5 separate regions of the Homo sapiens genome follow, and all the other regions are linked to region 1. The links come from fine-mapping of genetic effects on gene expression. A gene starts in region 1. Each other region holds a variant in brackets. All regions are shown on one strand. Distances are from middle to middle.

What was found. PIP is the estimated chance that this variant, and not a neighbour inherited with it, causes the effect.
Region 2: its variant is the best candidate, but not a certain one, in a credible set for the expression of ADAM12 in fibroblasts (GTEx, PIP 0.61).
Region 3: its variant is the best candidate, but not a certain one, in a credible set for the expression of ADAM12 in whole blood (TOPMed, PIP 0.52).
Region 4: its variant is the best candidate, but not a certain one, in a credible set for the expression of ADAM12 in testis (GTEx, PIP 0.52).
Region 5: its variant is the best candidate, but not a certain one, in a credible set for the expression of ADAM12 in whole blood (TOPMed, PIP 0.81).

What each region holds. Positions count from the first base shown.
Region 1 is chr10:126,384,857-126,391,366 of GRCh38, reverse strand. ADAM12 (ADAM metallopeptidase domain 12) reads left to right here and starts at 2,890. Exons shown (of 23, transcript NM_001288973.2): 1 at 2,890-3,309. The coding sequence starts at 3,222.
Region 2 is chr10:126,224,610-126,231,119 of GRCh38, reverse strand. The region is part of intron 3 of ADAM12 (ADAM metallopeptidase domain 12); the gene reads left to right. Among named protein-coding and RNA genes, the nearest start is that of ADAM12, 160 kb to the left of the region's middle. The variant T/C (reference allele first, on the strand shown) is at 3,222.
Region 3 is chr10:126,104,983-126,111,492 of GRCh38, reverse strand. ADAM12 (ADAM metallopeptidase domain 12) reads left to right here. Exons shown (of 23, transcript NM_001288973.2): 7 at 1,653-1,718; 8 at 2,829-2,900. Among named protein-coding and RNA genes, the nearest start is that of FANK1-AS1, 130 kb to the right of the region's middle. The variant C/A (reference allele first, on the strand shown) is at 3,624.
Region 4 is chr10:126,289,059-126,295,568 of GRCh38, reverse strand. All of the region lies in intron 2 of ADAM12 (ADAM metallopeptidase domain 12), which reads left to right. Among named protein-coding and RNA genes, the nearest start is that of ADAM12, 96 kb to the left of the region's middle. The variant A/G (reference allele first, on the strand shown) is at 2,543.
Region 5 is chr10:126,132,124-126,138,633 of GRCh38, reverse strand. ADAM12 (ADAM metallopeptidase domain 12) reads left to right here. Exons shown (of 23, transcript NM_001288973.2): 5 at 2,974-3,050. Among named protein-coding and RNA genes, the nearest start is that of FANK1-AS1, 160 kb to the right of the region's middle. RefSeq lists an enhancer at 2,257-3,456. The variant CA/A (reference allele first, on the strand shown) is at 3,158.

The sequences.
Region 1 (6,510 bases):
AGGAGGCAGAATTTCCATCCAAAGACAGACCATCTGCCAGACGCAGGATTTGCTCTTTGCCTTAGCTGGCTGTTATTGATGTCTATGAAGGCTTTGTGGAGACAGTGTCAGCCCAGGCCGCTTGCTTCACAGAGATGGTGAATTACAGGGTTGAAATCCAGAGCTTGCAGCCAGGATTTTATTTTTCTTCATTTTTCCTCTGCAATGGCTGTTTTCTTTCGTTCAGTCAGAAACAAATCAAGGACAGTCTTGGGGCACATTTAGTTCTTTGGAGGAAGCTTTGCAACATCCAGGTTTAAAAGAAATTGGACTTTTACAGTCAACATTAACAATTGAATATGAAAGAGCGAAAATAAATTGATCATTAAGAGAAAATGTATACAAGGCCCCCAGCCCAGTGCACAGCACATGTTAGGTCCATTGTGAATAAACCATTTAACCAGTCAGAAGGATCCGAGAGGCCAGTGGCTGGGCTCATCTGCAAGCAAATCTGGCCCTTTGAGCTGGAAGAAAACAATTTTTAATTCTCTTGCGTCGATGTGTCTGAAGTTCTATGGGCCACAAGTATCAGGATCACCTAAGTACTTGCTAAAACTTGTCCTTCCCAGACCTTTCTAATGAGAATCTCCAGTGCAAACGCCAGAGGAATTGAATTCTTAACAGACATCCCAGGGATCAGGTGGGTTGGGAGACATTGCATTATTTCACCTGGTGCTCACAACCACCTGGGAGGTTTGTATTTTACCTTCACTTAACAGCTGCTAAAACTGAAGGTTGGAACTCAGCCTTAAAGAAACAGGCTTTATCTTTAACAGATCTGAGGTTGGGCTCTGACCTACTTCACTGTGTGGTGGTGGGAAAGCTACATCTCTATGCTGCAGTTTCCTCATCTGTATATTCAGGACTTAAAAAATGAAATAATGCAGGTGAAAGACGTTAGCACAATACTCCGATTATACGAGGTATGTAATGAATTATGAAGTAGTAAATAGTCTGTTTTCGTGCTGCTGATAAAGACATACACAAGACTGGGTAAAATTATACAGGAAAAACGTTTAATGGACCTACATTTCCACATGGCTAGGGCAGAAGACATGAAGGGGCAAGTCATGTCTTACATGGATGGTAGCAGGCAGAAAGTGAGAGAGAGCTTGTGGAGGGGAACTCCTCTTTTTAAAACCATCAGATCTTTTGAGACTTATCCACTACCATGAGAACAGCACAGGAAAGACCTGCCCCCATGATTCAATTACCTCCCACCAGGTCCCTCCCACAACACATGGGAATTCAAGATGAGATTTGGGTGGGGACACAGCCAAACCATATCAGTAAACAAGCCTAATCATTATTAACTAGGTTAAGTAACTAGCTCACACTGTCCAATAATGATGATTTATCAGTTTGATCAGAAAGAAAAGTCTTTGAAGGCAAGAGGCTTTCTCGTTTAGTTTCCCAAGTTCTAACATAGGGTTGCTCATGTAGATTGACTGAATGAATGAACAAAAGAAGTACACTGCAACGCTGGTTGGTAGTACGGTTAGATATGACACAGGGCTTGAACCAGGCCTGGTTTCCAGATCTGGTACTGAGATATGGCAGCATTGGGAAGGGGGCTGGAGAGCCTGTGCTTCCCACTAAGGTTTTTTAAAAAGAAAGTCCTGCACCTTGTTAGGAGGATCGACCTGGGTTTTGGGAACACTGCAAAACCTGCCGTGGGAGGGAACTCCTGAGAAAACTCCTCTGCAGTGGGAAGAGATGGTATGGAAGGCAGCTTCCTCAAATGCTGGATAACCGCCTCCTAGGAGTGGGTGCTCCGTCAGGAATCGGTGCGAGGTCGCAGGACCAGGATGGAATTTCTGCAGGTGGTCCTAGGTCTGAGCAGCACAGTAGAATCACCTGAGGCTTTGAAAACTATTGAGCTCCACGCATTGTGGGAAACTGAGTTAACTGGTGTCTGGGGCTGGCAATGTCTTTAACTCTTACTATTCTAATAAGTCCCCAAGGTTGGGAATCATGGTAACCCGCAGGGTGGGCATCAGCCATCCTCCATAGCTCCAGCCATTTCTGTCTGTGCGGGCCCCCTCGCTGCTGCTTTTCATGGTCTCCCTGAGGGCCGAGCGAGGCTGAAGAGGTGGGGTCAGCCCGGAACAAGGATGAGAAGGCAAGGCGCACCATTCTTTCATTGGTGTTTCTCCAAACACCCTGGGCTCCCCTGGCCTCACAGCCTGGAGAGTCTCATTCTGAAAGCGTAGGAGGGCGCCCGGGAATCTTTTTAACAAGCCAACCCAGGTGCTTCTTACAATCAGGAAAGTTTGGGGAACGTCACTGTACACCCTTTTCTGGGTCCAGGTCATGGAATGGAAACGTGAGCCAATCTATCAACGTAAAACCTAACACTGTTGATCAAAAGTAACGCCCAGGTGTCTTGTGCCTGCGAGTCCAAGCTTGTTTCTCGGGCGAGAGATGCCCCTTTGGGCGCTTAGGGCCGGGCGGGGTCGCGCGCCGGGCTGTGGGCCGCGGTGGAGACCTGACCCGCACTCCGAGGGTTCCCAGAGAGCCGGGGAGCGAGTAGCAGAGTCATCGTTTCCAGCTTCAGCCTGAAAAGCTGGACCGTGCCGCCGCATGTGCGCTTGGCAGCCGGGCGCCCCGGGCCCTGCGGCCACATCATCCTGGGGCGGGGACGTGTGCGCTCCGGGCGCCCGGACGCCACTGAGCCACGTCTGAGCCGCCCACCCTCGGGGGTGAGCGAGCCGCGGCTCGGGGCGGGACCCTGGCGGGGGGACCCGAGCGGTCTCTAGGACCCGCGGGACGCCGCCAACTGGCGGGGGTGCGGGGGAGACAATAATTTGTTCCGCGGTAATAAGAACGGTGACTGCTGGCCGTGGATCCATTTCACAGGCCTGCCTTCTCTCACTAACGCTCTTCCTAGTCCCCGGGCCAACTCGGACAGTTTGCTCATTTATTGCAACGGTCAAGGCTGGCTTGTGCCAGAACGGCGCGCGCGCGCGCACGCACGCACACACACGGGGGGAAACTTTTTTAAAAATGAAAGGCTAGAAGAGCTCAGCGGCGGCGCGGGCGCTGCGCGAGGGCTCCGGAGCTGACTCGCCGAGGCAGGAAATCCCTCCGGTCGCGACGCCCGGCCCCGGCTCGGCGCCCGCGTGGGATGGTGCAGCGCTCGCCGCCGGGCCCGAGAGCTGCTGCACTGAAGGCCGGCGACGATGGCAGCGCGCCCGCTGCCCGTGTCCCCCGCCCGCGCCCTCCTGCTCGCCCTGGCCGGTGCTCTGCTCGCGCCCTGCGAGGCCCGAGGTAAGTCGCCGAACTAGGGCGGCTCGCTGCCCGCCCCGCCGAGGGCACCGCACGCTGCGCCTGGGCGCGCCGAGGTCCAGGGCTGCCCCGAGGGGCGACGCGCCCCGGCGCATCTCCGGAGCCCCGGGGCTTGCGCTTCCAGCGCGGCGAGACCGACCCCCCCCCCCCAGGTGCCAATTCCTTGGGGAAGGGCGACACTTGGCCCGCAGCCCCACAGGAGCCAGTACCTGCCCCGGAGGGCACAGCCTCGGGACCGCTCCCCCGTCCTCACCCTCTTGGGTGACATTTGCAGATGTCTCTGTATCTTGACATTTACACGTGTCACTCGGGACGATGCGTGTCGGGTCCTCTTGCTGGCCCTATCCCGCAGTGAATATCCCCACCCCAGGCTCCGGGCCAGCCCTTCACCAGGTTTCCTTTCCAGCCCCGCCTCCCCCGCTAACACACTTAGGGGGGCGCGCAGCGGCCCCGCAGGTGAGGCAGCCCCCTCCTCCGCAGGTGTGCCTGCTGCTCTCCACAGCAGGCTCTATTTTCATAAACTGACTCTCTTACCTACTTCTTTAGTTTCCTCTCTGCCCCTCTTCCTGGCTTCCAGGTCACTCCCTAGCTGTCAGTCGCAGGCAAACTTTAGCGGAATTCTCCCTCCTTCCTCCACTCAGTTTCTCCGCCGTAAATAATCGCCCCCATCAACTTGGTGCACAGCGAGAACTTACTTAGTTTAACGTACTTAGTTTTACAGACTTAGGTTTTCCCGAGTTGTAGCCCCTTAAAATCGGGCACCTGTGGCTCCCGTTTGCACAGTGAGGACTCACCCAGCAGGTGCCTTTTTAAAAATCCGGCAACTTCCCCGGGTCTCCGCCGCCGCCGCCTTCTTTCTGCCGCCCGGGGCGCTGTCGGTCCACCGATGAACGACTTCCCTTGGCCGCAAGCTCTCAAGTTCTGTGATTCTATATAACAGGCATTTATTTTTCAACAACTGGCCTAAATCACGAACCGTTACCACTTTATGATACGTTTTATTTTGCGATTGCCACTGCTGCCCTCCGCCCCCACCGCGTCTACTGTAATGTGGCTAAAACCCAGTTCTTGTTAAAAGCCACACTGCGAAGACCAATTCGGGGATAAATGATTAAATACAAAGATTGCACAAAGCAATGAGAAAGTCAAGAAAGAATCCTGCTGAGGGTTTAAAGAACTCTACGACCTGTAGTGAATTGTGCTTTGAAAGACTTTTAAACAAATTGGTCCTTTTGAATGTTTATTAAGAAAGAACTTTTTAAAAAACGGAAAGTGTCTCAAAGTGTGCCTGACATGGTCTTTAACTTGGCACGTGCTTTGTACACATAAAGAGAAGTCTACTGAGCAGGGACAAATTTTTTTTTTGGAAGAAAATGTTTATTAAATCCAGCTAATAATGGGAAATTATTTCTTGTGTGTGTGGGCGGGGGAGGACTTTTACTATTTTATGAGTTCAGCTTTGGTAGAGAGAGTGTTTCCTTAAGACAGATATGACCCAAAATAGAAAACCAGGGAGGCCTAAGCACTTTGAATGGGTTACCTATTGTGATATATTCCAGGATTCACTGCTTGTTTACCCTTAGATTCTCAGTATCAAGTCTTCAATCAATCAGTGCCCCAAATCATACCATTGAGGCCGTATAAAACGCCAAACATATAATGAAACATTTCTTTGCATTGGCAAGAGAAAAGGAGGAATTACTACCTGTTGAGTCTGAGCATATTCTGAGTTTCTCCCTAGCCTTGTCTGTACCCTGAGCCCTGGCACAGTTGCCTACTTGGTACTTTCTGGGGCAACTCGGCCTAACAAGTCCAAAACAGAACCCTAGATCCCAGACTCTCTAGTTGCAAATCATTCCCTCCCCAGCCTTCCTGAACCCAGTAACAACCTCCTCTGCCTTCTCCACATGCCTTGTGCTGACATGCAGGAAGTCATCCCTGTGTCCCTCTTTTTACTCCGTAAGCCACCAACCTCCTAAGTATATTCCCACCTACCCACTTCCTTACATCCCGAAGTGTGCCTTTCCCAGTCCAGGCCACATTATAGGAAAAATCTCTTCTGCAGAAGCCTCTTATCCCTCTTACCCAACGGGCCTACTGGCTTTTCACCTTATCCCTGCATGGTATATTTTCCTCCACAATAGAGCCAAAGTTATTATTTTCAAACATGAGTTAGAGCATTCAAGTTTCCTGTCTAAAACTCCCCAGTGGCTCTCTAGCACCCTTAGGAAAGAAAATCCAAACCTCAGCATGACCTAATTCCTGTTTTCCTTTCTGATCTCCTTTCTTACCATTCTCCCTTTGCTCACCCTACTCCAGACACACTGCCTTCTCTTCTTTTCAACTACCCAATATAGTAGTGCCATCATTAAAAAAAAATTCAATGTTTGCACTAAGAAGACTTTGCAAATACTTTTCACTGTTTTGCCGTGCAGTGTTTTATGGCATTTCATCCCTCTTGTAACTTTTTGCTTTTCCTAGAGTTAATGATTGCCTTGTCTTGATTTTTGTTTGCTTTATTTTCTGTGCACCAAGCTGTGATATTGTGATATAATAAGAAATATGTCTCTGCCCCTGGTTCCTGGCACAGAACTCCTAAAATCCTTGGAATCTCTGGGGTATTAAGAGTGTCTTTTGTATGCTAATGAGCTTGTTAAGGCATGATTAGAGTTGGGACTTTTAGTGCCACCTCCCTTGCAACCTCCAGGGAGGGGAGACGGATTGAAGGTTGACTTGATCGCCAATGGTGTAATTAATCATGGCTGTGTAATTAGGCCTCCATAAACCCCCCAAAGGACAAGGTTTGTAGAATTTCCAGATTGCTGAGCAAATCAAAGTTCCTGGAGGGTGGCGTATCTAGAGAGGACACAGAAGCTCTGTATCCCTTTCCACATTCTCTGCCCTTTGCATCTCTTCCAACTGTTTTTCATCTGTGTCCCTAATTACATCCTTCATTAATATAATAAACTGGTAAATATAAGCAAGTGTTTTCTGTGGTTCTGTGAGCTTACCTAGCAAATTAACTGAACCTGAGAAGGGGGTTGTGGACCCCCAACTTATAGCTAGTTGGTCAGAAGTATAGGTGTGACAACCTACTACTTGTGATTGGCATCTGACATTGGGGGGAAGTCTTGTGGGACTGAGCCCTTAACCTGTGTGATCTGATGCTTTCTCCAGGTAGAT
Region 2 (6,510 bases), 160 kb after region 1:
GGCAGGCAAAAGTCAATAGGGGCCTCAGAAGATGCTTCCATTTACAGGACAATGCAATGAAGAAGTCCCTTTAAGTTGATGTCTTACGTTCTTAATAAAATGTTTTTGGTTGCTAAAATTGAACTTATAACCTTCTAAAGCACAAGTTTTATAATTTACATAGGACACAATTCCCTTAGATTTAATGCATGTCCTAGCTTAACGTAAAGGTAAAGGGAAAAAACTCTAAGGGATAAGACTGCAATAGTTAATAGTTAATCTGTAAGTTAAAAATGTTTGTTTTTATTAAAATATCCAAATCAAGGACAAGGAGCACATGATACAATGGAAAAAATATTGGCAGCATAAATATAGTGAATATATCATGAGCTTTTACAAATCAGGAAGCAAAAGACGTTCACACTGAATTTAAAAAGGGCTTAAGACAATCACAAAGAAAGTACAAATGACTAATGAATATGTGGGAAAACATTCCAATTGATTTATACTTAAATGAAAATTCAAATGAGGTCATATTTTTCATCTATCAGATTGGCAAAGCTTTTAAAAACTACAATTCGGTGTTGATGGAGTTTCAGGAGAGTGGGTGGGTTCTTACACAGTTTGGAAGAGTGGAAATGGATACACCCTTTGGTAGAGCAGTTTAGAAATACATATTAAGAATATTAAACATACAGCATTCGACTCAGCAGTTTCACATCAGGGATTTATCCTCAGGAAAGTATAGTGTATCCCAAGGCATATGCAAAAGTATATTCATTGCAGTGTGGTCATGATAGGCATTGAAGATGTTGTATTGAACGTCAGATAAATGCCAGGAGCAGTGTTAGCTGCAGGAAATATAAGGTGTGAGGGGCGGGTAGAAACAGATCCAGTCCCTGACCCCTCTACGAGTGTACCCTGCATCTGAGGTACAGATAAGTAATTTGGCCATAAGAGCCCAATGCCATGAGTGCTTTGGGGGCTGGAAGATCACACAGAAAAGGAACCTTCCCTGGGCTTGGTAAGACAGGAAAGGAGAGTACCACAAGAAGGCTTCCTGGAGGAAGTTGCAGCTCAGCCAAAATGGAAGGATCAGTAAGAATTAGCCACATATAAAGGGCAGGTAGGAATTGGCCAAGCCAAGGATGTGGACTGACACCTTAAGGGCCAAACACTGCTGGAGAAGCACAACTCGTTGAGCACCTGCATGTGGGATACTAGAGTGCGGCAGCGGCCAGGTCACAAGGGCCTTGAGAGTCTTCAATAGAAAGCGCAGAAGCATGACATCAGTAAGAGATTAACAATCATGCCTTCGAGCATTTACTGGAATACGGGGCAGAGCTCCATCTGAACAGCAGGCATGAACAGAGCACGAAGGGGGTTCCCAAAGGAAAAGTGAGGTTTGCAACTGGAGGAAGGAGAAAGAGTGAGTGGAAGGTAGGGAAGGAGGCGGGAGAGATAAAGAGAATAGGACTGGAGGGAGACAGTGGGGGGGAAGAGGAAGAGAGGGGGAGAGGGAGGGGGAGGGAGAGGGAGAGAATGCACATGTATAGGGAAAGAATGGAAGGAAATAGATACATTCAATGCTAATTAATATTTTCTAATGTGTTTTATTGGAGACTTGAAATTTATTCTTTATAATTTTCTCAAGTTAATATATATAACTTTTTTATTCTACAAACAATTTTAAAAGGCTCTTACAATTATGCAGCCATTAAAATGAATGAAAGTCTTCAAATGCATCAAACATAATTTATCCTCAGAACTGCCATGCCCAGACAAACCCAGAATTGAGGCTGAGAAGTCACAGGAGTCAAACAGGATTGGAATTTGGTTCCTACAGGCTTTTTCTCAAAAGGCAAATTAAGAACTTTCAGGCCAATTGATAATATTTCCCCTCCTAGATTCCCCTCCCTCCACCGGAAGCCCCTGCCCACCTCCTGGTTCCTCTCCCTCCACCGGAAGCCCCTGCCCGCCTCCTGGGAAGGGGAGGCTCTGAGGGCATCTGCACATGTGATCACTTGGGTAAAGAAATCCCCAGGCTCCCTGCAGAAGTGTTTCCATTAGCGTGGTCATCTCAGGTTTTTCTCTTTTGTTTTGTTCTTTTCCTGGTAAACAGGGGAACCACAAAAAGGTATTGGATTTTCTTTCTTTCCATACCAATTGATTTTATATTGTCTGACAACCCTCTGTACACACTGCCAGTAAGAATTTTTTTTAACCTTAATCTATAAAATCTTACTGCATTTAATCACTGGATTTACATTTGGTTTATTTTATACTTGCAAAGAAAACAGCCACTTTTATTTAAAGAAAAGAGGAGGCTTGAACATATCAGAAGCTTCAGCTACATGGGTGGGAGGCCTGGCCCATGTCTACTGCAGAGCATGGTTTGGGGGCAGAAGGATGAATTTAAAGTCCACCCCTTCCTCCTGATAATCAGAACTTAAAAGCTCCAGGAGGAAGGACAAAAATGTGCAACAAAGTGTTTCATTTAGTAGGAAATTGTCTTATATTTCCAGAGTGTAAAAATACCCTACTAGAAACATGATTTCTAATTATCTGATTTCATTCTGGTATGAAATAGACTTATGAGTAGGATGTTTTCTATTTAAGTATTTCAAAAAACATATGTTTAAAAATACAACTAAACCTTCTTAGGGTTTTATAAAAATTAAATCCTTCTATCTGAGCCCAACATTGTACATTTGAAGTTACTTTTTGAAAATCTGTTTCACTTCTGTTCTTTCAGCACCCAGTTCTTGGTCTTATATGAAACGATCTCTTGGAATCATGCATTTAATGGAAGTTGAATGGGGAAAAAATATCTTAGGATGCACTTTATGGATCAAAAACTCTTACATTCCAAGTGTTAAGCCTTTGTTAATACCAATCGTTTGTTGGCATATTGGGGGGTACAGTTACGACTTTGTGAACTTTCAGAAAATGTTGATTTGCTTTTGTCAATGGGACTTGATTTTCATTCCAGAACCCAAGCATTGTTAGGGGTGCAGGCTTCCCCATCAGATGTCCTATCTGCTTTCAAGTGAGGACTGGCAGTGTCTGGGGCCGTCCTTGACCCCTTTTCCCTCCCCTGGCTTCTGGAAGCTCGTCTCCACCCAGACATACCCTGATCCAGGGGAATCATCACAGGAAGGTCCCCACTGTCTCCTCCCTAGGGACTCCAGGATATGAATGGTATGAAAGGCATGGCTCTGGGGGGTGCTGCCAGCTCACCA[T/C]CTGTCATGACTCAGCTCCCTCCTCACTGTCCTCTCCACTCCCAGCTCTCTCTCTGCCTCACAAAAATATTGCCATTTTTTTCTGCCTCTTTGTTTTCTTGGCCTAGTGAGGTTGTCAGAAGGATTGTTCAGTGGGGTCCCTGGGAAGGAAAAGGAGGGGAAAGAGAAAGGTGATGGGGGTACTCTCTCCAAAGCAGTCACTTTCTGCTGAGACACGGTGCCTTCCTGAATGCCATCTTCTTATCTGGGCCAGGGCTTCTCAAACGTGAGCATGCCTGCAAAGCACTGGGGATAATGCTGACATGCAGATTCTGAATCGGTGGGTCTGGTGCGGACTGAGAATTTATGTTTCTAACAAGCTCCTGTGTGTCGTACCTGCTGCTGGCCCATGCTGTCATGAAAAAAGTGTGCTACTTGAACATCAATGAGATCGTCTATGTAGGGGGCTTAACAAAGGGCCTGGCAAATACTAAGTGCCTCACAATGTGCGTGAAGTTGATGATGAAGAGAAAATGATGATGGTGGCAATAGTGAAGATGATGATGATAACAGCGGTGATGTGGTTATGATGACAGGTGGTGATGGCAATGATGATGGTGATAATAGTGATGATGGTGACGATGATGATGGTAATGATGGCGATGGTGATGATGTGGTAATCATGGTAATAGTGGTGGGCATGATGGTGATGGTGGTGGTGTTAGTGATAATGGTGATATGGTGATTATGATCATGGTGATGGTAGTGACAATGGTGATAATGATGGTGATGGTAATGGTGGTGGTGATGTTGGTGATAATGATAGTGATGGTGGTGGTGACAGGGCAAGTATTGATGATAGTGATGGTGGTAATGCTGGTGGTAGCAGGAAACACTTATCTTCATAGAAATGTTATTGTTGAATCTGCTGTACGATAAGCAGTTATTTTCAGAGAACAAGCATCAAGGAGAACAGAGAGCAAAACAGGAATTGGTTCACTTGGCCAGTATATATGTTCATATTTCCACCCAGAAATTTAGTGCAGTTTGCAAAACAGCCTTAGTCCTTCAGGCCATAAGCTCTGAGGGCATAACTGAGTCAGTCATCATTGTCCTGTGTCCTGGCACCCGGTAAAGTGCCTGGCACATAGTAATCGCTCAGTAAATGTTGGCTCCTGTCCTCAATTACTGAACATTTACTATTTCTGTCCTCAATTACTGAACACTTACTACAAGCCAAGCTCTCTACATGCATTTTTCTCATTTAGCCTTCACAACAAACTTGAATGGGAGGTATAATTATTAACCTTAATTTGCAGGTATGAAAAACTAAGTCTTGCCTAAGGTCCCTCAGCTGGCCGGAGGCAGAGCCAGAATTCAGGCTCAGGCCCGTCAGAGTCGACAGCCCAATCCCAGTCCTCTTGTGATGACATGTGATTCTGGAGCAGCGCCACCATTGCATGCATGTCAGCTGTGCCCATGTTGCCTTCACACCCCTTGCCAACGCAGGGCTGCACACGCATCCCCTCCACACAGAAGCTCCTCACCAGGCAAGGCATGTGCCCACCAGCCACGCCCATGCCCACCCGGCTTCTCCTCTTATTCCTGCTCCTGAACTCGTGCATTCTTTCCACATGGTTCTGATTCTGTCCTGGAGAGATTTGCTCAGGCTGACATCCAGTGGCTGAAAGAACAGCACTCCCACCCCACTCCCCCCGCCCCCTCCCCCCACCACCACCTTTCCCCAGGGATTATGCAGAGCACCCGGTTTCATTGCTGGGCCGTCACCTTTAACCCATCTGTACCATGTGCCTAGAGCACCATCCTGGCTTGCACGGGTGGTCTGTGCCAGACATCTTAGGTCTGCAGCTGTTCCCCCATAAGATGCCTGTCCCTGCTGCCCTTTGAGGGTACTCAAGTTGAACCCCAGATGCCCATTTCATGTTTGATAAACTTTGCTCCGCACTCCCATTTCTGTTAAAGCTGCGAAAGGCTTCGACTTTGTTCCATTTGGAAGGGAGGCTGGAGTTACCACGCTCTGGGCTCTTACATCCTGTCGTAACATCGTTGTAAGGGTTGCGTTGTGACTGCAGGAATTCCCAGTTGCAGTTCCAGGAAGGTCAGAGAGGAGCAACGTTCCCAGCCACAGTTCTGTGAGCTATGGTTCAGACTGAAGTCTTTTGCTTATTTTGGTGATAAAAGCTGAACATGGTTTGTGCTGAAGTTCCAGCTGGTTATCGGAGTGGCTGACCAGGTCAGTCTGCTTTGTGAAGGGGAATCCAGGCCCCTCTTGCCCTCATTTTGCAGCCTGAACACATGCTCACTTTCCACTCCCACGTGTGAAGCATGAACACACGCACACCTCCGCCCAGTTATGCAGTCGGGCTCACGGCTAAAAACCGATTTTCCAAATGATCGGGCAGGATCACGCATGGATGACGGAAGCTCTGGCTCTGCCCCCACACTAATTGCCGTGCGATCCCGTGCAGGTTTCTTTACTTCTCTGGGCGTGTTTCCTCACCGGCAAAATGGGAACACTTAACGAGGAAACTTTGCAGAGAGCATTCAGCTTTCAAACTCTGACTCCCCAAGTGTGTGACATATTTTTTAATAACTCCTTTCTCATTATTTCCCTTTTACCTCCTTGCTTTGAATCTTGAGACACAACAGAAAACATATACATGGTGCTTTAGCAAAGGCAGCCAGCTCCTGGCCACCCTTTCCAGGGGTCGGGCAGAGGTGTATGTGGTACAAATGGTCAGGAATGTTTTTCATCCTTGAAAAAAGCCTTCTTGCCCTTCTGCCACCAGCACAGCCTCCTCTGAAAGCAGTCGAAACAGTGGGCTCAGAGGATCCCGCCCTCTTCGGGGGTGCCCCCTTTCTAAAGAGTTGCTTCTCACTCCCAAACCTGACTCAGAGGCGGCAGGAGCAGTATCTGTGACTGACAACAAAAGCCGTTCACGTAGAGGAGGAGGGTGGCGGGACTGGCTTGGCTCTGATGCTTCCCTGATGTCCACTTTTCCCGAGTAATTGCTCCCTCGTCTCCTGCTGCAGCACCTGCCTGGGATCCTCCATGAAACAGCTGGCTGGGGCTGCAGAGTGCCTCCAGACACGCCCCTCTCCTGTGTCCCTTCCTGCTCACTTGTAGGTGGCAACAGACGTTTGACCTGACATCGTGACAGTGGCTCTTTGGCAGTCCAGGGCCAAGGTGAGCCAGGGAAGGCAGGAAGCAGAGGGGCTCTGGAGCTGGTATGTTGTGATTCAGGTGAAGCCACGGGCTAAAGACTGCAGTATTATGGGAAGATGCCCT
Region 3 (6,510 bases), 280 kb after region 1:
AATTAGCCAAATTTTTTTAATGATTAATTAGGGAATTATGGACAACAGAGAGGGTTCTGCCTCTTTCACGCCTCAATGAGGAAAAAGGGCAAGATCTTCACACTTTCAGAAGGTGTCTCATTTTGTGTGCACCCGTGGGCACCATGGGGGCAAATGTCTTTTCTTTTATAAGTAACGCATAGTTATCACCATAAAGCATGCCTACAACATATAGTTACAAAGCGTAACAGTTTCTTCTTGTAACATTGTAAAGATATGAGAAATTGTACCTTTCCTGGTGCTTTATTTTTCCTTTTCCATAAGGTTTCCAGATATCTTTAGGAACACCTAAATTCATGAATTAGCACAGCTGGGCAGCAAGAAGGAACACTGCTATAATACAAACATTTTTCTTGTAAAAGTCTGTTTGGAAGATCCCGGACTGATGGGGATTTGTTTTATAAAAGATGTTTCCCTCAGGATTATGTGACTGGAAACCTGATTCAAAGCATACTTTTGTGATTTTCTTTTGCTTTTGTCTGAAAGAGTGGTTATAACATGCAAGTTTTAAACTTGAAGCAGTGTGTGTAGTTAACTCATAAACCAGCAATATCAGTCATCAGGACCAAAGACCAACTTAACCCCCACTTCCTCCAACTGCATTTTATGGCAGAAACAGAAGGCTTTGTTTTTTGTTTTTAATGTTTGCTTTTTGAGACCACCCTCCACGAACTGCTTTATTTCTCTTAAAAATGCATTTGGAATTCTTCCAGTAATTCACAGAAGAGTGTGAATGCTTTTTGAGGAAGTTTGATTAAAATGTGATCCACTTCAGGAGCTGCCTTTGTGGGGGACGGGGTTCCTATTTCTGCTGCCTGAATCATCTCCATTCATCCACTTCCATATCCACTTTCCATGTTCTCTCAACTGTCTCACTCTTACGAAATCCCTGTTCTCCAGGGGCATATTGCAGTCTTAGTTTTTTCTTAACTCTGTTTCTTTCCGTTCTCTTTCTCTTTGCTCTTTTTTTTTTCTCCTCATACCTTTCTCACTTCTCTGTTCATTAGTCTGACAGTTTCCTTTTCTCCAGACCACCCCGGTCTTCCATTGCTTCTAACTAGATTTTTACATTATCATTTAAAAAATGATTATACAGTTCCTGTTCAAAATGTATTCTCCTCCACTTTTCTTAAGTCTCAAAACAGGTACACTTGGACCATAAAGACAAAGGGAACAGCCACAGTGCATTGAACTCCGTCGTCTTCTCTGATGACCTTCAAATGTGGTCATCAGAGAAGACCTACACGTGGTCTGAAATAAATGACTTTTGACTGGCTCCTGTTCTAGAGAGTGCTTTGGTTTTGTTTGTTTATGTGCTCGTTTTGTTTAATAATCTTGATTTGCTGCTCCAATAATCCATGATTCAGCAGAAAGCTTAAACTCCTTTTTAAGGGTTTTCCAAGTGGAAATGGAAGCTGGTTACTCATGTTGAGAAGGTTTTACAAAGAGTTGGTTGGAGTTGGGGTAAACTTCTAGATGGAATGGAGGTGTGGGGGCCTGGCGGGGATGGGGGATATACATTCTCAACCTAAAGTGTTTAGATTGAGAGACATTGACAGTCTTAATGCCAGAGAGGCATTAAGAGAGATTAAGTGCATGTTTACTCTTGGCAGCATAAAAGAGAGACCCTCAAGGCAACTAAGTATGTGGAGCTGGTGATCGTGGCAGACAACCGAGAGGTAAGAACTTTTTAAAATTTCTCAGTATGGTTGGTTAGAGATAAAAGAAAAAAGGACATGTTTTGCAAGTTATTACTTGCTTTAATGAACCTCATTTCCTATGTGCTCTTAAAAGCAATGGAAACAACCCATTGAAACAATGGTTTTCTGATTTTATAAAGCATACAATATTAAAAATTTATTTGATATATAAAGTAATGGCAAAGCCTGCAGGAAAAAACAGAGTTGCTCTATAGCTCAGCTCTCCAAACAAGGAGAATTAACTGAGAGGAATGACAGAAGGCTTTAGATTATATTCTAAAACATTTTGGGGAAAAGTTTAGTCTTTAAAATGGGACATTTAAAAAATATCCCATATGTCATTAATCAAAATGAATAAATGAAGGTATGAATGAAGGCTATAGAGACACAGCAGAAAAATCCTCCCCTCTGAGCTATAGCTTGATACTACATTCATTTTTTATTTTAATTAATTTTGAATTAGTTTTTCTAAAGATTATCTTCTCTGTATTTACTGCCTCATTGGCATATATGAATTGGGTGATTGGGTGATATTTTCTCATAGACTCTTTCAACACCTATGAATGAAACAGGCTTGACTATTTTTCAGAAAATGATTCCCATTCTGGAAGGTCAGATTAGAGAGGGGAATGGGAAATTTGTTGATTTTTTTGTCTATTCTCCTCTGTATTGTTTGACAAGCTGCCATGAGCTTCTATGACTTTTACTTTTTAATTTTTAAAAACAAATATAAAGAAAATTTCTCAGGAAGTTAAAATCAAGTTGATGATATGAAAAATGGCTTTGGACTGACTTCTAGTTGTCTGTTTCCTCTTTGCCAAAACAAGTCACTGCCTCCATCATTTATGAGGCTGGAAAATTGCAGAAGTTGCTGTCTTGAGAGCACTTGGCTTAGGCAAATTTCAGGGAATTTCAGGGAGTCCCCAGCCGGGAAAGTTAGTCGGCAGGATGCAAGCTCATTTTACCGTGAACTGTGGAGGGTCCCCAGTGGTTTGTAAAATCCCAAGACTTCACATTTCCAGAAGCCAGGAAGATGAAACGTGATTGATATTCTTGCTGGTATTAATGCTGCCATTTAAAATTGTTAAGTTTCAGAGGCAAGGAAAAGATCTGGAAAAAGTTAAGCAGCGATTAATAGAGATTGCTAATCACGTTGACAAGGTAAGTTCTTTTTCAGTAGTTAAATCATTCAGATCATGTAAATGTTTGGAAATGAGGTTGGGGGACCTCATCTGACTTAGCAAGGAGATGAGGTTCTGCCTCTGGGCCTTGGTTTGGAACTGTTTCCTGTCCTCTGAGTGTGTAATTCCTGGGTCCTGGGGCAGCTTCAGGAGATGCCAAACCACAGCAGTCTGGACTATGGTGGCCTTGGTGACATGTCTTCCTCCAGGCTCTCTTCCGGTCAGGTGGAATACCAGTCTGAGGGTGTTTTGGACTTCCCGATTAGCTCCAGAACCCCTACAGAGTTCACCTGATCCTTTGGATTCCTCCTGAGCCGGGCCTCTCCCAGGTCTCCCGATGACGGATCCCACAGGCCCCTTCAATCTGTCCCCATCATTGCAGGCCTGTACCAATGTAACCCTGAGGGTGGGCTTGCATTTATAAGGGATCCATAGGCTTCACTGTCCTGGAACACAGAAGTTGACTTTCAGCTAAATCAGCTATTGGAAAATCCCTCGCCAAGAACAAGTAGGTCAGAAACTCACCTTTCACAAAGATGATTTCCTTGCTGGAGGAGCCCCTGCAAACCAGGTCCTACTCCTGGGGTACTTGTTCACTAACCGCTCCTCACACTGCGGGCCGGCAAAGAAAATGGCAGCGCTCTCTGTCTAAACCACCTGTCCTTCCTCAGTGTATCCTGCTGGAGAGGATGTTGGCTATTTG[C/A]TGCTGACGACCCTTAGCCTAAAATAGGCTTCTCACAAGCCCCGCATATTGGAGTTGCCCTGTGAGCTTCTGAAAGCATTGCTGCCCTCAAGGGGCAGGGCGGGGGGGAGGTTAGACCTCGAATTTTCAGAAGCTCCCCAGCAATTCTCATGTGCAATGTGGATGGTGACCGCTGTCCTAAAGCAACCATAGTCTCTCAGCAATACTGAGTCTCTTGCCTGTGGGGACAGTGTGAGAAGGGATCTGGTCATGGCTGAGCCTTTCACATCCATGGTCCTCTGAAACAGCAGATTTTACACATAGTGGTTTGTGAGGGTGCCTCACTCTAGCCTTGTTTCCAAGCAATCTTATTCGATTTGAATTGCATTCTCTAAGTTTTCAGAAAAATGAAGGCAAAGGTCCTTTCAGAAATTCGGCTCCATATTACAAGACCTTATGCACTCTGCATCAATAATTCAGAATGAATCAGATGTGGTCCCTCCACTTGAGAACGTCAAGGCTGTGTAGGGAAGCAGACATGCAACCCACACAGCATGGTCCAAGGCATTAAGAACTAGATCCATGCTATGAATGGAGGTTTATGGGGATGCAGAAGAGAATCACTTACTTCTTCCCAGGGCCAGGGAGTCTTTGCAGGGAGAGGATCCTCAAAGGTAAGTTCAGTTTCACTGTGAGCATAGCAGAAGAAGGAGTATGTGTGATGTGGACATGTATGTGCTTCATGTACATGTACATGCATGTGTGTTCCTATATGTGTTCATGTGTGTGTTCATACGTGTGTGTGCCCTGCATGCATGTATGTGTGTTTGTGTACATGCATGCTCATATTGTATGCAAATGTATGCATGCAGAGCTAGGGCAGGAGGAGATGAAGCTGCAAAGATTCACGGTGCTCAAGGCCCCGGCTGTTCTACGAAGCCATCTTGATGTTATTCTGCAGTGAATAGAGAGCTAGGTGAATGTTTTTAAGCAGGGGAGAGACACACATGATAGTAGAAAAATATTCCTGCAGTTAGTGTGGAGGGTGGGATAACCAAAGACAAATAGGGCTGAGAGGAGCCTATTGCATAGAAATGATAAAGGCCTGAGCGGGCGCGGTGGCTTACGCCTGTAATCCCAGCACTTTGGGAGGCCGAGGCGGGCGGATCACGAGGTCAAGAGATCGAGACCATCCTGGCCAACATGGTGAAACCCCGTCTCTACTAAAAATACAAAAACTAGCTGGGCGTGGTGGCATGCGCCTGTAGTCCCAGCTACTCGGGAGGCTGAGGCAGGAGAATTGCTTGAACCCGGGAAGCAGAGGTTGCAGTGAGCCGAGATCACGCCATCGCACTCTAGCCTGGTGACAGAGCGAGACTCCATCTCAAAAAAAAAAAAAAAAAAGAAGAAGAAGAAAAAGAAGGGATAAAGGCCTGACCTGACCCAGGGCAGGGGAAGTGGGGAAGTGAGAAGGACAAGGATTGAGAGAGGCTCGAAGGGATGTGTTTCCTGATTATTATTTTTACCAGTTACTGTGTGCCGGGCTCTAAGTGCTTTGCACACACTCTCAGGTACACACTATTGTTCTTATTTTTAAAGCAGAGGAGGCTGAGATGGGCAGAGGTTATTCATTTGCAGGACGAGGGATGAGTGCTAGTCTTGCCAACTCCCAGCAGCAGGGGCTCTTGGCTTTGACTCTACTCCCCCTACTGTGAGTCCCGGGACCTCATGATGACCAAGCAGAGGCTGAGGGCGAGTGGGAGACCACATGACCGCCAGTTTCGTTGGAGTGGAGGGGCAGGTAGACGATGCTTCATACCCCAGGAAAGGGGGAGCAGGAAGAGGAGTTTGAAGGGCACTCTGAACAGTCAGAGATCTGGGTTTGCCACTCAGAGAGAGGCTATGGCTACATGGAACTTTCTGGAAGTCAGAAAAACCCACATGGCCGTTGATATCCTGGGATGATATTGCCCTTGTCCACCTTTGAAGCAGGTCAAACTTCCTGGCAACCCCTGCCTGTTGATGTGTTTTCAGTAGTTACTCTTTGCAGATTCAACTTTATCCCATAGTCCAGGTGCAGGAGAATCCTGGTGAAAGGCAAATCCTGGCAGGGGGGATGAAGGGTGGGTCTTAGAGGAGACATCAAAGATAGCACGGCAGTTAGAACTGGACCTCGGTCTAGACTGGACATTAGAACCCCTGGAGGGGAGTTTGTTTGTCTATTTGTTTATATGTTTACTTTAGGAAATATTGATTCCCACACCTTGGCCCAGGGATTCTGATTTGATTGACCTGGCACAGGGCCTAGGCACAGATATTCTCCAGGGTCCTCCAGTTATCCTAACATGAAGTGGGACTGAGACGCACTGGCCTAGAGGGCGGAAGGCTTAGGTGCCTGAGCTGGGAGCGCAGGTGCCACTCCAAGGTGAGCGAGTTGGACCATTGCCCCAACGGCCTCAGGCTATCCTCAGACTGTCCAACGAGAAGAAAACACGAGTTCTTCTTAGACCTCGGGAGCAAAAGGAAATGATAAACTATATTAAACCCAAACTGGAAATTGCTGAAGCCCCATTTTAAAAAAGGGATGTGTTTGGGTCCTCTGTGTTTGTATTTCTTCACATTTATTCTAGGTTATATCTTGCTTCAGTTTGCAAAACCAAAAATGAGCAATTAGGGGTTTGTTAATAACTTGCACTGGTAATTAAAAAACACTGTGCCTCGGAAAAGTCCTAACGGACTCCGTGGAGTTTGCCGGCCTGGCTGTCCTTGTGTTTCTGGCAGGGAGAGAGCCGATTTGCTGAGCACACAGCTACCCCTGGCCCTGACATCCCTGTCCATCCCCAGCAGACGCCAAAGACCTTGGAGGAGATACCCAGGCCCCCTGGGAGACTTGGTGCTTCCAAGTCTA
Region 4 (6,510 bases), 96 kb after region 1:
GTGTGTGTGTGTGTGTGTGTATGTGTGTGTGTGTGTATTTTTGTGGTAAGATGTTATGGTTTGCAGCAAAATGAAAATTCAATTGTAAGAACAGTAGTGTTTTCCTGGATTGCAGGGCAACGGAAATATATTCTTAGACAAAAGGAGCAGAGGTATGACCAATACAAATGGCAGTGTGGTGTAATCCTTATTGTCAGTCACATGAAGTGCTTCTTATGTGCCATCCCTGTCCAAGTTGTGATAGAAACTATGTCATTTAGTCCTCCCAGCTGGCATAGTATGACTTACCTGTGAGGGACACTGGGCTCAGAGAGGCTAACAATGACCAAAGCATCACACAGCTAGTAAGTGATGGAGCTTAGATTTGACCCCAGATCTATGTGATTCTATTTTTTGGGGGGAGAGGGAGAGGAAGCTATAATATTAAAAAAAAATGAGTTATAGTTTCCTCTGAAGCTCTGATGGGTTTAACTGACCACTTCCTTTTATTTTCCACTGAGCCTGGATTTTCCATTTGTAAAAAATTAGCAAGGAAACCTTTCATTTAAGCTTGATGATCATGTAACAGTTTTTGGATTTCCTTATTCCATTGCAACTTTAGGTAAGACCCTACTGTATACTTAGGGAGAATACACACAGGCACACACACACATACACACACACACACACATCTACACACAATTTTGTTTATACAAAATTTCTTCTAGTTAATAATGCATCAGAAATCTTTTCTGAACTATTTTCTCTGAAATCATTACAAATAAAAGATTTGTCTGTAGGAGTTCAGGAATCTCTGTATGACATGATATCTCTAGAAAATAATGGAATTTTGGTTCTTACTGGTTGTAAATCATGTTGGTCAGTTGTAAGTTATTCACACCCACGTGCTACGTCTGTTAGCTGTCTTGACTCTTCCTCTGTTTTCCTTTTTTTCAAGTCCACATTAGTTTTATAGTCCAAGTAAGTTGATTATTTACCCAGTTTTTCATCATTTAAGTCAGGTCATTCTTAGGAATGGAGCAATCCTTTCCTCTTCCTAGCAGAACAGGGAGGAAACCTGAACAGCCGAGACTGTCGCGGGAGAAATCCTGCAGTTTCCACAGTGACCCCTTAAATGCTGTGACATTTTCACTCCTGTGGTTTAGTTTCAGTTGGGATCATCCACGAAGGCTGAAAATACGCTAAGGTTTTGGTGATCACACACTTCTGATCATTCCAGCCTCATCCTCAGCAAGGACTACATTTTCTATTTTGGTCTGAAATTCATCTGTGTTAAGGGTGAATTTAAATACTTTGTCAGCAAATCAACAGCCAAAATTCTAGTATATCCACTTATTCCATGTAATGATGACTTTGACTTTGTAGCAAAAATCAAGATTGACTCTCAGGGTGGACAGCCCGTACTTAGCACAGTGTCAGGTTCTGCCCTGTCAGCATCTGATGAAGGGATGAGCGCATTTTATGAGGCATTAATACAGTTGATCCAAAAACACATTGATTTCATACTTTCTATATACAAAGAAGCAATGCTTGAGGCACATTGATGGGTCTTCAAAGTTGCCTGAGGCCTCAAGAGGCTTGAAGCCCAGTGGGTAGACAGTGTTTGTGAGTAAACAGAAATAACTACATTTCAGGTAAAATGTGGCAGTATAGTTAGAAGAGCAGAGATTGGAGAGAAGAGCTCTACCTGGGCCTTCATGGAGAGTTTTAAAGGCCAGGGCATCTGAAGGGGCCTTGTGGAAGATGGGGAGTATTTTAGGAACTAGAAGGAAGGGCAAAAGAAGAAATGGGAGGCCGAGGTGGGTGGGTCACCTGAGGTCAGGAGTTCAAGACCAGCCTGGCCAACATGGTGCAACCCTGTCTGTACTAAAAAACAACAAAAATTGGCCAGGCGTGGTGACATGCACCTGCAATCTCAGCTACTCAGGAGGCTGAGGCAGGAGAATTGCTTGAACTTGGGAGGTGGAGGTTGCAGTGAGCCAAGGTCACACCACTGCACTCCAGTCTGGGTGAAGAGTGAGACTCCATCTCTCAAAAAACAAAATAAATAAAAATAAATGGGGTGCTCATTCACTTGTTTCATGTGTATCCCACATCATCATCCTGTTTGACTTGAGGCCAGGGATTGTGAAGTCAATACCTGTAGGGGCCAGGCCAGGGTTACAAACTAGTGAAGCTAGCCAGACATAAGATGACAGGTAAGCTTTGCCCCTTGGGCTCCATGTGTGGATCCCATAGGGCAGGTGGGGCTGGGAGAATTGGTGGCCTCTAGTTAGTTTTAGCCAACTGTTACCATTGAAGTAGAAACCAAGGGTTGCCATTTTTCCTGGTATTTCTCCCCTCCCAGAAGCTGCACATCCAGATTTGTCTGAGAATTCTCCTGACTCTTAGGTGTTAGCAACTTAATCAAATTGACAGCACTGGATGGCGCCCACTTTGGGGCCATGCCAGTGATAGAGCTACAGGCTGAAGGAGCCTTGTGGGTTGCTGGCCTGTGAAACTTGGTCGAGCAACAATGGTTCTGCAATGTGGTCCCCAGACC[A/G]GCAGCATCAGCATCACCTGGGAACTTGCTAGAAATGCAAATGCTTGGGCCCCACCCAGATCATCTGAATTGGAAACTTGAGGTGGGCGCAATGATATCTGTTGTAATAAGCACTCCAGGCGATTTTGATGCTTTCCTGTGTTTGAGATTTTTTATTTTTATTTTTTTTACCTTTTTAAATGACTGGAGAAAAAAATTCAAAAGAATATTTCGTAACACATAAAATGATGGGAAATTCAAATTTTGGTGTACATCAATAAAGTTTGACTGGAACACAGCCACATTCATTTATATGATCTATGACTGCTTTTGCACTGCAGTGGCAGAGTTGAGCAGTCATGACAGGGACTGTATGGCTAACAAAGCTTAATGTATTTATTATCTGTTCCATTACAGAAAATGTGCATCAACCCTGCTCTAGAGCACTGAATGGGATGGAGGAAGAGGAGGCAGGTGGAGGAGCCTGGGATGCTCAGGAACCTTGGCTTTGTACCCAACTTTGGCTTTATATATGAAGGGCAGAAGAATTATTTGAGCCCTGCATTAATAAAACAGCTCAGGGAACAATATACAGGACTGGCTGATGAAAGAGTAGCCAGGGGAGAGCTGGAATGAGGGCCATGTTGCAGGAATAGAAGGAACTGTGGAGGTACTCCAGAGAAGGAATTGCAAAACTCAGCCACTAATTCAACATTGGAACCGAGAGGAAAAAGAGAGTCAGAAGAGGGTACCAATGGGAGCCAAAAGGATGATGATGACAATAGGAAAAACAAGGGGGTCACAAAATGAGGAATGCACTCGGGGGAGTCGGGAGAAATGTGAAATGAGCTGGTGAGTTTTCAGCACTGTAGCCTTTGAGTTGCCAGGGAGAGATCTGCTGATTGTGGCTTGTGGGGCATTTGCAATGCATGTGCTGGGCTCAAGAGAGCAGTCAGAGCTGGAGATTTGGCGTCGAGCATCTTCTACATAGAGGACCAAGTTTTTCATAAGTATGTCTGGGCTTCATGACTGGCTGATTTTTCTAATGTTTCAACGGGAAAAAAAAAAAGCTGAACCCCAATTTTCATTAGCAAAGTGTACAGATTGAGGATGTCTCTGTCCCAGAGCCAGACTGGGTTGAAATGGAAAGTTATACCCATAAAGGTTGCAAAGCCCTGCAAGCCTGGTGAAGTGATAGTCTGGTTAACGTGGTGGCTCCAAGGGGCCACACAGCCAGATGACCCCCAGTCCTTCTCAAGTCCTTCATCTGCTTTTGCCTTGAGTCCTCAATCCCAGAGCTGCATCCATCACCCCCCGAGCCCTGGGCTTTCTGACTCCATCTCCCAACTCCAGTGGAGCTTCTCCTCCAGCCTCAGCGTGCACCTCTGTCCCATTCCTCCCGTGCCATCTCCCTCCTGATGCTGAGGCTCTCATGAATGCCTCAAGACACAGCCAGGCAGGCAAGCAAAGGGAAGAGCAAGTGACACTCTAACTTCAATTTTTGTCTGCAGCCATGAAATGAGAATTCTCTTTGCAAGATCTTTATGAGGCTTGTAGTGTGTGTTTTCATGGTGCAATTTGAATGTGTTTTCTAAAAAGTTAGCAATTAGCTGTAATTCTGTTTGTAATAGAAAAACTTGTTTGCATTCGGCCTCAGTACATAGTGACTTGCGGTGCCTCTGTGATCGATAGCAGGATTACTCTTTAAAGGGCTTAGTATATTCTGCTAATGTTTATTTGAAAGACATTACAGTGATGCTTTATAAATGGATTTTAGTCAACATATGAATGGGGTATTTTTCTAGAAGACAGCTTGCATGCAAACAAACTAGCAACTTAAGCTAACTTCCCCTGACTGACAGTTTTGAAATGTGTTGTAGGAAAAAAAAATGGTACATGAATGTTTCCAGACATCAAATTAGTTATATAAATGCACTTTGAATGGGAAGCAAGCTTTCTGGTTAATAAACACAGTCCATGCTATTCTACCACTGGCTGTGTCTTAGAAGGCCTCAGAGGCCACTCCAAAAACAATGCTCTGTGCTTTTATAATATTTTAATGTCCCTGGTTATATCAGTAAGCATACATTAGAAAGTATTAGCTTAAAACATTCTACACCAAAATGAAGTACATTCACATATTTTGTGCTGCATCTTACAGGTCTTCTAGTACCTTCTATCCCCTTCTATGATTGGTCGTACACATAGTACGTAAGAGCCTCTTCCCATATAGAAGAAGGGGGAAAGCTAAGCTGCTTTCAGCTATCAACCCAGGACTGGACCCAGTGCCTGGCTCATAAATAGGCCCTCAGTTAATAAATGTATAATATTCCTTTTTGAAAAATTTTTGAAGCGTCATTTATTATGCCCATTTTGATCTAACTATAAAAAGCATGAAAAGGGTGCAATTTGGGAAATTAGCAATCGATAATAAGTGAAACGGTATCTTGTCACTGTCATGCTGTGCAGTAGCAGTTTGATTTGTGATTGGATTTCTGTAATAAGCATGCATTTTCATTTTGTCACGCATGATGGTTTCCAAACAGCCTTTTTACCATTTGAATCTCATAGCGATCATACTAATTAAGTCAGTTGTCTAGTGCTGCTATAACAAATCACACCAGTTTAAGTGGCTTAAAATGACACCCATTTATTATCTCACAGTCAAAATCTCAAGGTCAGAAGCCCAGTGGGCATGGTTGGATTCTCTGCTTCAAATCTCACCAGGTTAAAAACAAAGTGTCCACAGGACTTCCTTCTTGGTGGAGGCTCTGGGGGAGAACCCATTTCCTGCTCCTTGACGCACTGGCGGAATTCAGTTCTATGTGGTGGTAGGAACATGGTTCCTATTTTCTTGCTGGCGGTTGAGGGCGGTTCCCAGCTTCTGGAGACACCAGGTTCCTTGGCTCATGGCTCCCTTCTGGCACCTTCAGAGTAAGCACAGTGGGTCAAGCCCTCTTGTCACATCTTTCTGACCCCAGTCATGAAAGATTCTCTGCCTTCAGGAACGCTTGTGATTACATTGGGCCCATCTGAATAATCCAGGGTGAGGTCCCTGTCCTTAACCTTAATTGCATCTTCACAGTCCCTTTTGCCAAGTAAGGTAACATATGCACACATTCCAAGGGTTAGCACATCTTTGGGGACTGTCATTTCTATGACCACAATGATAGGAAAAGCGTTTTGTTATCCCATTTTCCTTGTAAGAAAACTGAGGTCCAGCAGAGTTAAAAGATTGGCCCTCAGTCCATGGCCCACAGCTGCCGTCTGACCGTAGCCTTCTAGCCTGAGGCCCCTCCTACTGTAGCCTCTTAAATGGAAAAATGCTACATTTCCAAAATGAAATAGTTCTTTGTTGCTTAAAATTATTGTTCCTTTGCAGTCAAAAGAGGAGGAATTGCTGCATCTCCATAAACTTTCAACCTAGGATGCTCCTAGAAATTGATCAGGGTGTTCCAAGACCTGGGGTGGTCCGAGGATGCTGAAATGAACTGGGTCTTGGAACCCAGCCTAGGCCTTCTTCCCATGGTGAGCACACCTCCTCATCAGCCCTGCTTTCCAGTGCAGCTGGCATCGACACTGAACGTTGCAAGGGGCTGGTACCCGTGGATGTGGATGCCAGGCACATGGCACTGGGGCTACCAGTGGTCCTTATGAGCCCAGGTGGTACGTGGCTGACAGGAAAGACTCATCCCGGCCTCGGCCTTCTGCCTCCCCGCCTTGGCATCTGATGGTCCTCAGCAGGCAGCCAGGTGCTGGCAGAGATGCCTGGAAGTGGGAGAGGGCACGGGGCAGCAGAGGTCTGAGGAGGTGGTCCCACAGCCTGGCAGGGTTTGGTGTCAGCTGGGGCCTGGTCAGAGGCTGACTTCAGCAACATGATGTCAACACACTATCCAGCCCCCAGGCACCAAGTCACCACATGGTCCTGTCCCCAAGCCATTGTGTCACCACACGGTCCTGTCCCTGGGCCACCGTGTCACCACATGGTC
Region 5 (6,510 bases), 250 kb after region 1:
GAGGCCAAGGCAGGCAGATTGCTTGAGGTCAGTAGTTCAAGACCAGCCTGGCCAATATGGTGAAATTCCATCACTACAAAAAAATACAAAAATTAGCTGGGTGTGATGGCATGTGCCTGTAATCCCAGTTACTCCAGTGGCTGAGGCAGGAGAATCACTTGAACCCGGGAAGCAGAGGTTGCAATGAGCCGAGATCGTGCCACTGCACTCCAGCCTAGGTGACAGAGCGAGGCTCTGTCTCAAAAAAAATAAATAAATAAAATAAAAATTAAGAAAGTAAAAGGACAACCCATAAAATGGGAAAAAAATCTGTAAATCATATATCTAATAAGGGTCTAGTGCTGAAAATATGTGAAGAACTCTTCTAACTCAACAATAAAAACACCAAAATCCAATTTACAAATAAGCAAGGATTTGAGTAGACATTTCTTCAAAGAAGACATAAAAATGGACAATAAACACATGAAAAGATCCCCAACATCATTAGTGATTAAGAAAATTAAAACCAAAACCACATTGAAATACCACTTTATATCCACTAGGATGGCTATAATTGAAAAGATAAACAATAACAAGTGTTGGTGAATATGTGGGGAAATTAGAGCCCTCGTGTAATGCTCACAGGAATGTAAAATGGTTCAGCTGCTTGGCAAAACAGTTTGGCAGTACTTTAAAAAGTTAAACATTGAGTTTCCATATAACCAGCAACCTTACTTTTAGACCCACGTGTCTACTCATAGTGCATATCCAAGAGAACTGGAAACACATCCTTACAAAAATGTGTACACATGTGTTCATAGTAACGTTACTCATAATAGTCAAAAAGTAGAAACAACTCATGTGCTCAACACTTGGATAAGCAAAATATGTTTTCATCCACAAGGCAGAAGGTGATTCAGCTGTAGAAAAGGAATGACATTCTAATGCATGCCTCAGTATGAATGAACTTGAGAACACCATGCTTAAGTGAAAGAAGCCAGTCACAAAAGGCACTTATTGTATGATTCCATTTCTATAAAATAACAGAACGGGCAAATCCATAGAGATAGAAAGCAGGTTAATGGTTGCCAGAGATGGAGGAGCAGGGAATGGAAAGTGACTGCTAATGAATATGAGATTTCTTTCTGAGGTGACAGAAATGTTTTAGAATCAATTAGTGGTGATGAGTATATAATATTGTGAATATACAACAAAACCCACTGATTATATATGCTTTTAAAAGGTGAGTTTTATGGCAAGTGAATTTAATCTTAATTTTAAAGGACAACTTAACTCTACCTGATATCAAAATAGAGTATAGAGCAATAGTCATTGGAACAGTGTGGAATTGGCACAGAAACAGACAAATGGATGTCTGTCTCAGTGGGCTAGCACAGAGAGTACAAAAGTGGCACCACAAACATACTGTGGGCCTTTGATATATGCCAAGGTAGCATGTCACATCAGTGAGAAAAGGAAAAATGGCAGCAAAGCACAGCTGGCTCTCATTTTTAGGGGAAAGTTAGCATTGAACCTCACAGTCCCACAAAAATTAATTCCAGATGGATTAAAGAGCTAATTGTCAGACTATAAAGATAGAAGAAAATAAAGAAGAACATATTTGTGACCCTGAAAACAGCCACCTTGAGCTATGCAAAAAATGCATGAAGAGAGCGACAAATGCATTTAGATTGATATACACTGGAAACTCTGAACAAAAAATACCATAAGCAAAGTTAAAAGACATTTCCCATGTAATAACAGGCAGAGTATTAATATCCTGAGTATATAAAGAACTTCTAAAATTAATATGAAAAAGCTCAACAGAATAATAAATGTCCCTGCAACCCCTTAACCCTATCACCCTCCTTTCATCGCCTTTTAGATGATCTGAGAATTTTGTCATCTACGTTGAGACCAAGAGATCATCTTAGCCCCTTTCCCATGGTGGTGTCTGGTTTTCTTCATGACTCAATTGCATCTGGTGCTTTTTCTTAGCAAAGTCAAGGTGGGTTTTGTTGGGCAGAATGACTGGACACCAAGCTCTGCGCTGGACAAAGTGCATGACTGTTGTCGTGTGTGAAGGAGCTGTGTGCTAAGGAGGGTGCAGTGGAGACAGACTAACACCTGAGCTGCTCAAAAGAGGAGCTTCTCAGAGGAAACCCTGAGAAGATGCATGTACCTTTCTCTGCAGAGACCTGCACCCAGCTGGCGTCCAGAGGATCTGAGTGAGGAGTACTGAGTATACTCAGCCACTTCTTGCCAGTCTGCCACTTAATTGGGGCTGCAGCATAACCTTTGCTCGATGATAAAATTAACCTTGATTCCGGACTGATATCTGTCTTCACTAAGGAAGTGTCTGTGCTGTGGTTTCTTTTTGTAAGCTGTGACATTATCAAAGAATAGAATATTGCAGGCATGACACACGGGAACTTTTGTCTTAGACTTAGAAGACCTTCCTATTTTTCTTTCCTGCCGAGATAGACTTTCAGCTCTCAATTGGGTAATTCAGTGAGGTCCCCTCCTTCCTTCTTCACCCCCACTTCCTCTCATCTGCTTTCCCGTTTTCATAAGCCACAGATTTAGGCCTTGTTTTATTACATTTCACAGTGTGCTTAAATACCCCCTACAGTTCTTCATCTCATTACAAAAGACAATTTACATGAGGGTAAAATGGCGATGTCAATGTGATTTGTTTTGCTGCTGGATTTTGTAAAACGTTCTGTATCAGGGCTTTCCTGTAGGGTGCCAGAGAGACAAGAGTGAAACTAGGGTTCATTTAAAAACCGCTGTTGGTAATCTGTAAGTAAATCAGATATTCCCGACATAGACCCTGGCTGGGTCATGTTGGGCTTTGCATTAAATATTAAGACTGTAGAACAATATTTTATGCAATGGAAAATTCTATAGTTAAAAACAAGAGGCAGTTGATTTATTATAAGTGGGCAAAAATGTGTTATAACTGAAATGGGATTCTCTCCTCCTCCCCTTTAGGGTCACTGTTACTACCATGGACATGTACGGGGATATTCTGATTCAGCAGTCAGTCTCAGCACGTGTTCTGGTCTCAGGTAAGTGGCCATGACCATGGCGGCTCTAGTCTTCAGCCATCTACTGCAGGCAACCTCTGTCTTTTCCTGCTCGTGCTAAAGCACTGAGAGTGAGTGATGGGGGCTCC[CA/A]GCTCAGCTACACCTCCACCTAGGCAAGAGAACACGGAGGCCCTCTCTCCACTGCTTACAAGAGCATGGCCACCCAGGATCTTAGCCTCATGTTCATGCCCCCTCTTACAGTGCCATCCTCAGGCCTGGTGGGGTAAAAGCGACTGAACTGGTTGAGTTTCTACATCCAAGCATTTTGTGAATTATTTTCCATTTATGTGGCTCTGATGCTTTATAATTCCCAGTGCTAAAAGATAGAACATTACATACCAATGTTGAAGCTGCTGGCTTAATGTAAATCTTAAAGGGCCTCCTCTCATTAGGAAACAAAGTAAGGAAACTAATTTAGCAACAACCAAGGTGAGTTGAATAGAGGCATGGATTGGTAGGGGGTTTGCTACTATGCTACGGGCATGATGCAGGAAACAATTACCTTCCCATGCTAGACAAGTCAACCCCAGGTGTTACTCACAGCCCGCTTCCTTCCACATCACAGTTATTGGCCATCAGGTGGCCCTTATGTGCTCCCCAGGAAAATCATTTTGTTTGATAAATTTCCAGCTGTTTCAGCCTTTTTACTGGATTTGCTTATCGAATTTGTGAACTAAATGTTTGTAACCTCAGAGTCCTGGGTAACTTTGGCCCAAGGCACCAAAGCATGATTCCATGGGAGGGAAGAGAGAGAAGGCCCTGGAAGGATATACCTGCTTGAGTTAAAAAGCAGAATCACATTCTGCGCATCAGCAGTTCCTGTGACGTCTTTGCAGGTTCTGTGTGGGATCATGGAGGATGAGAATATGCATGTGACACACACAACAACCACACACCTACCAGTTTATTCTTTGCTGCCCTCACTTCTACTCCAGCCAGCAGAGAATGAGAGTTCTATTTGCTCACATGTTCCCCATTGCTCAATACATCTGATTTATCTCTAAGTATTTACCAGCGTTGGTCCTTTCATGTAACTAAAAATAAGTACACAAAGCTATTCCTCTTCCTCGTTCATCCCGTTCCAGTCCCACTCAGATAAAAATGCAAGCTGGGAATTCCCCTCCCAGCTTTCTCATCCCTTGTGCATGTAAACACATAGTCAGAGATTGGGGTGTGTATTTGTTTATTTTTACAAACATAGAGTCACATCATATACATCATTCTACGGCTTTCTTTTGTCACCCAACCCTGTCTGTCTCTCCAAGTTAGCAGACACAGACCCAAATCATTGAGTGAACACACACATTTGCATGCACACACACATTTCTGCATACCTGCATTTTTTTAAAAGCATTTTTATGTCCTATTTATGCAACACAATTGAACTTTAAGATGTCTGCTACTCTGAAAAGTGAAGGAGGTGCCTTGTGGTTTGAATTTGCTTCTCTTCAGTTATTCATTCGTTCAGAAAACATTCCTTGAGTGCTTCCTCATTGCCAGTTCTGTTCTAGGTTCTGGGGGCACGGCACTGAACAAAATGCATTCTTCCTGGAGCACTTCCTAGTGGAAGGAACAGACAATGGACATAGAGTAAGATACATGATGTCAAGGATCATGGAGAAAGACAAAGCTGAGATGGAGGACAGGAAAGGCAACAGGTAGTCAGGGAGGTTCGGAAGGAGGTGAGGTGAGCCCTTTAGATGAGGTAGGTAGCATATCAGAGAGAAGAGCATGTGCAAAGCTCCTGAAGCAGAAAGATGCCTGGGATATTCCCAGAGCAGCGAGGTGGCCAGCATAACTAGAGTGGACAGGGACAGGGAGGCAGTAGAGAGAAATGAGGTCAGAAGGGAAGTGGAAAGGTAGGATCACCAGGGGTCACGAAGGTGATCAGATGTCCTTTGGCCTCCCCCCCAGTGATGGGTGCCAGGGAGCTTGGAGCTGAAGTGATGTGGTCTGACTTCACATTTTTACAGGGGCACTCCAGCTGCCAGGCTGGAAATAGACTGTAGGGAATGTGCACAGAAGCGGAGGCTTGGGTAGGTGTCTTCAGAGTAACTCTGGTAAGAGGTGGTGGGGCAGGCCTGGTCAAAGGTGGCAACTTTTGTGAGAGTCGAGAGACCTTTCCACGGGTATTAGAGAGGCTGGCGACTCTAAATTTTGTTAGTGATCTGTGTCTTAAAGTCACTTTCCTGAGGAAGCGTGGGGTGTGAGCACATGAAAGGACCTACTGAAGATGCAGCAAAATCCACTACCAGGCAGGGACTCCAATACGCGTACACGCCCAGCATGCAGAGTGGGCGCTCAGGAGAAGGTGAAGAAGGAGAGTTTGGAAGTGACAATTTAGAGCAAAGATGACAACTGTTCACCACCAAGGAGCTGAGGTACATGAGGGAGAAATTTTAAGTAATGAAGTATCATCCTGAGAGGCTGCAGGGGAGGTGATATCAGTGGAATCAGCCAGGATTCAGCTAGGGGAAGGAGGTAAGAGGAATATTCTGGAAGAGATTTGGATCAGGATAGGATTTGAGGATGGACCATGAGCCCCAAGAGCACAGTGGAAAGGGTTAGGGAAAAGGGAGTGGGGATAGGGTCAGTAGAGGATTAAAGACTTGTGGGGGATAAGGGGCCAGTTTTCATGGAAAACCAGTGCTTGAATTCCTGGAGGAGACAGAGATGAGGGGGTGAAATGGGATCAGACCTGGTGGCATCTGAGGTGAAGGTGAGTGACCAATTCAAAATGGATACTCTGGGACCCCAGGTAGATGTTCTCACCCTAGAACATGATAGTCAGGGTGGTGAATTAGCTGTGTGACGATGGACAGGTCACTGGGCCTCTCTGAGCCCCAGTTTGCATGGTGGGAAGTTTGCATGTTCAAACAAAGTTTGAGTTTGTTTCTCCCCTGTGATGGGTGCCAGGGGAGAAACAGTAAACAAATGCAGTGACCTCTAGGAAAGCCAAGCCCTGTGCCCACCTCTAGTGAGCATCATGAGACAGTCTTTGTTCTTTGATTCTGGGACTGGACTAGTTGAGGGGGGGGGGGTGTTCATGCAGCACTCCTGGGATAATTCCTTGCAAAGCTTTGCAGCTCCTGTAGAGACCAGGGCAGAGATACACAAGGCCATGGTAGTAAGGACCACACACACTTGGAAAGGGAAATCCACACTTTACTATTGTGCCTCTCTGGGGCCTGAAAGGTGGACCTCTTTCTTCAAAGGTCATGTGTTGAAGGCTGGATATTTTCAGCCTTCAATTTGGCATTAAGGTCATTGTGTGTAAAGAAGAGAAAAGCTGCCCGGGGGCGCGGTGGCTCACGCCTGTAATCCTAGCACTTTGGGAGGCCGAGGCGGGTGGATCACAAGGTCAAGAGATCGAGACCATTCTGGCCAACATGGTGAAAACCCATCTCTACTAAAAATACGAAAATTAGCTGGGCGTGGTGGC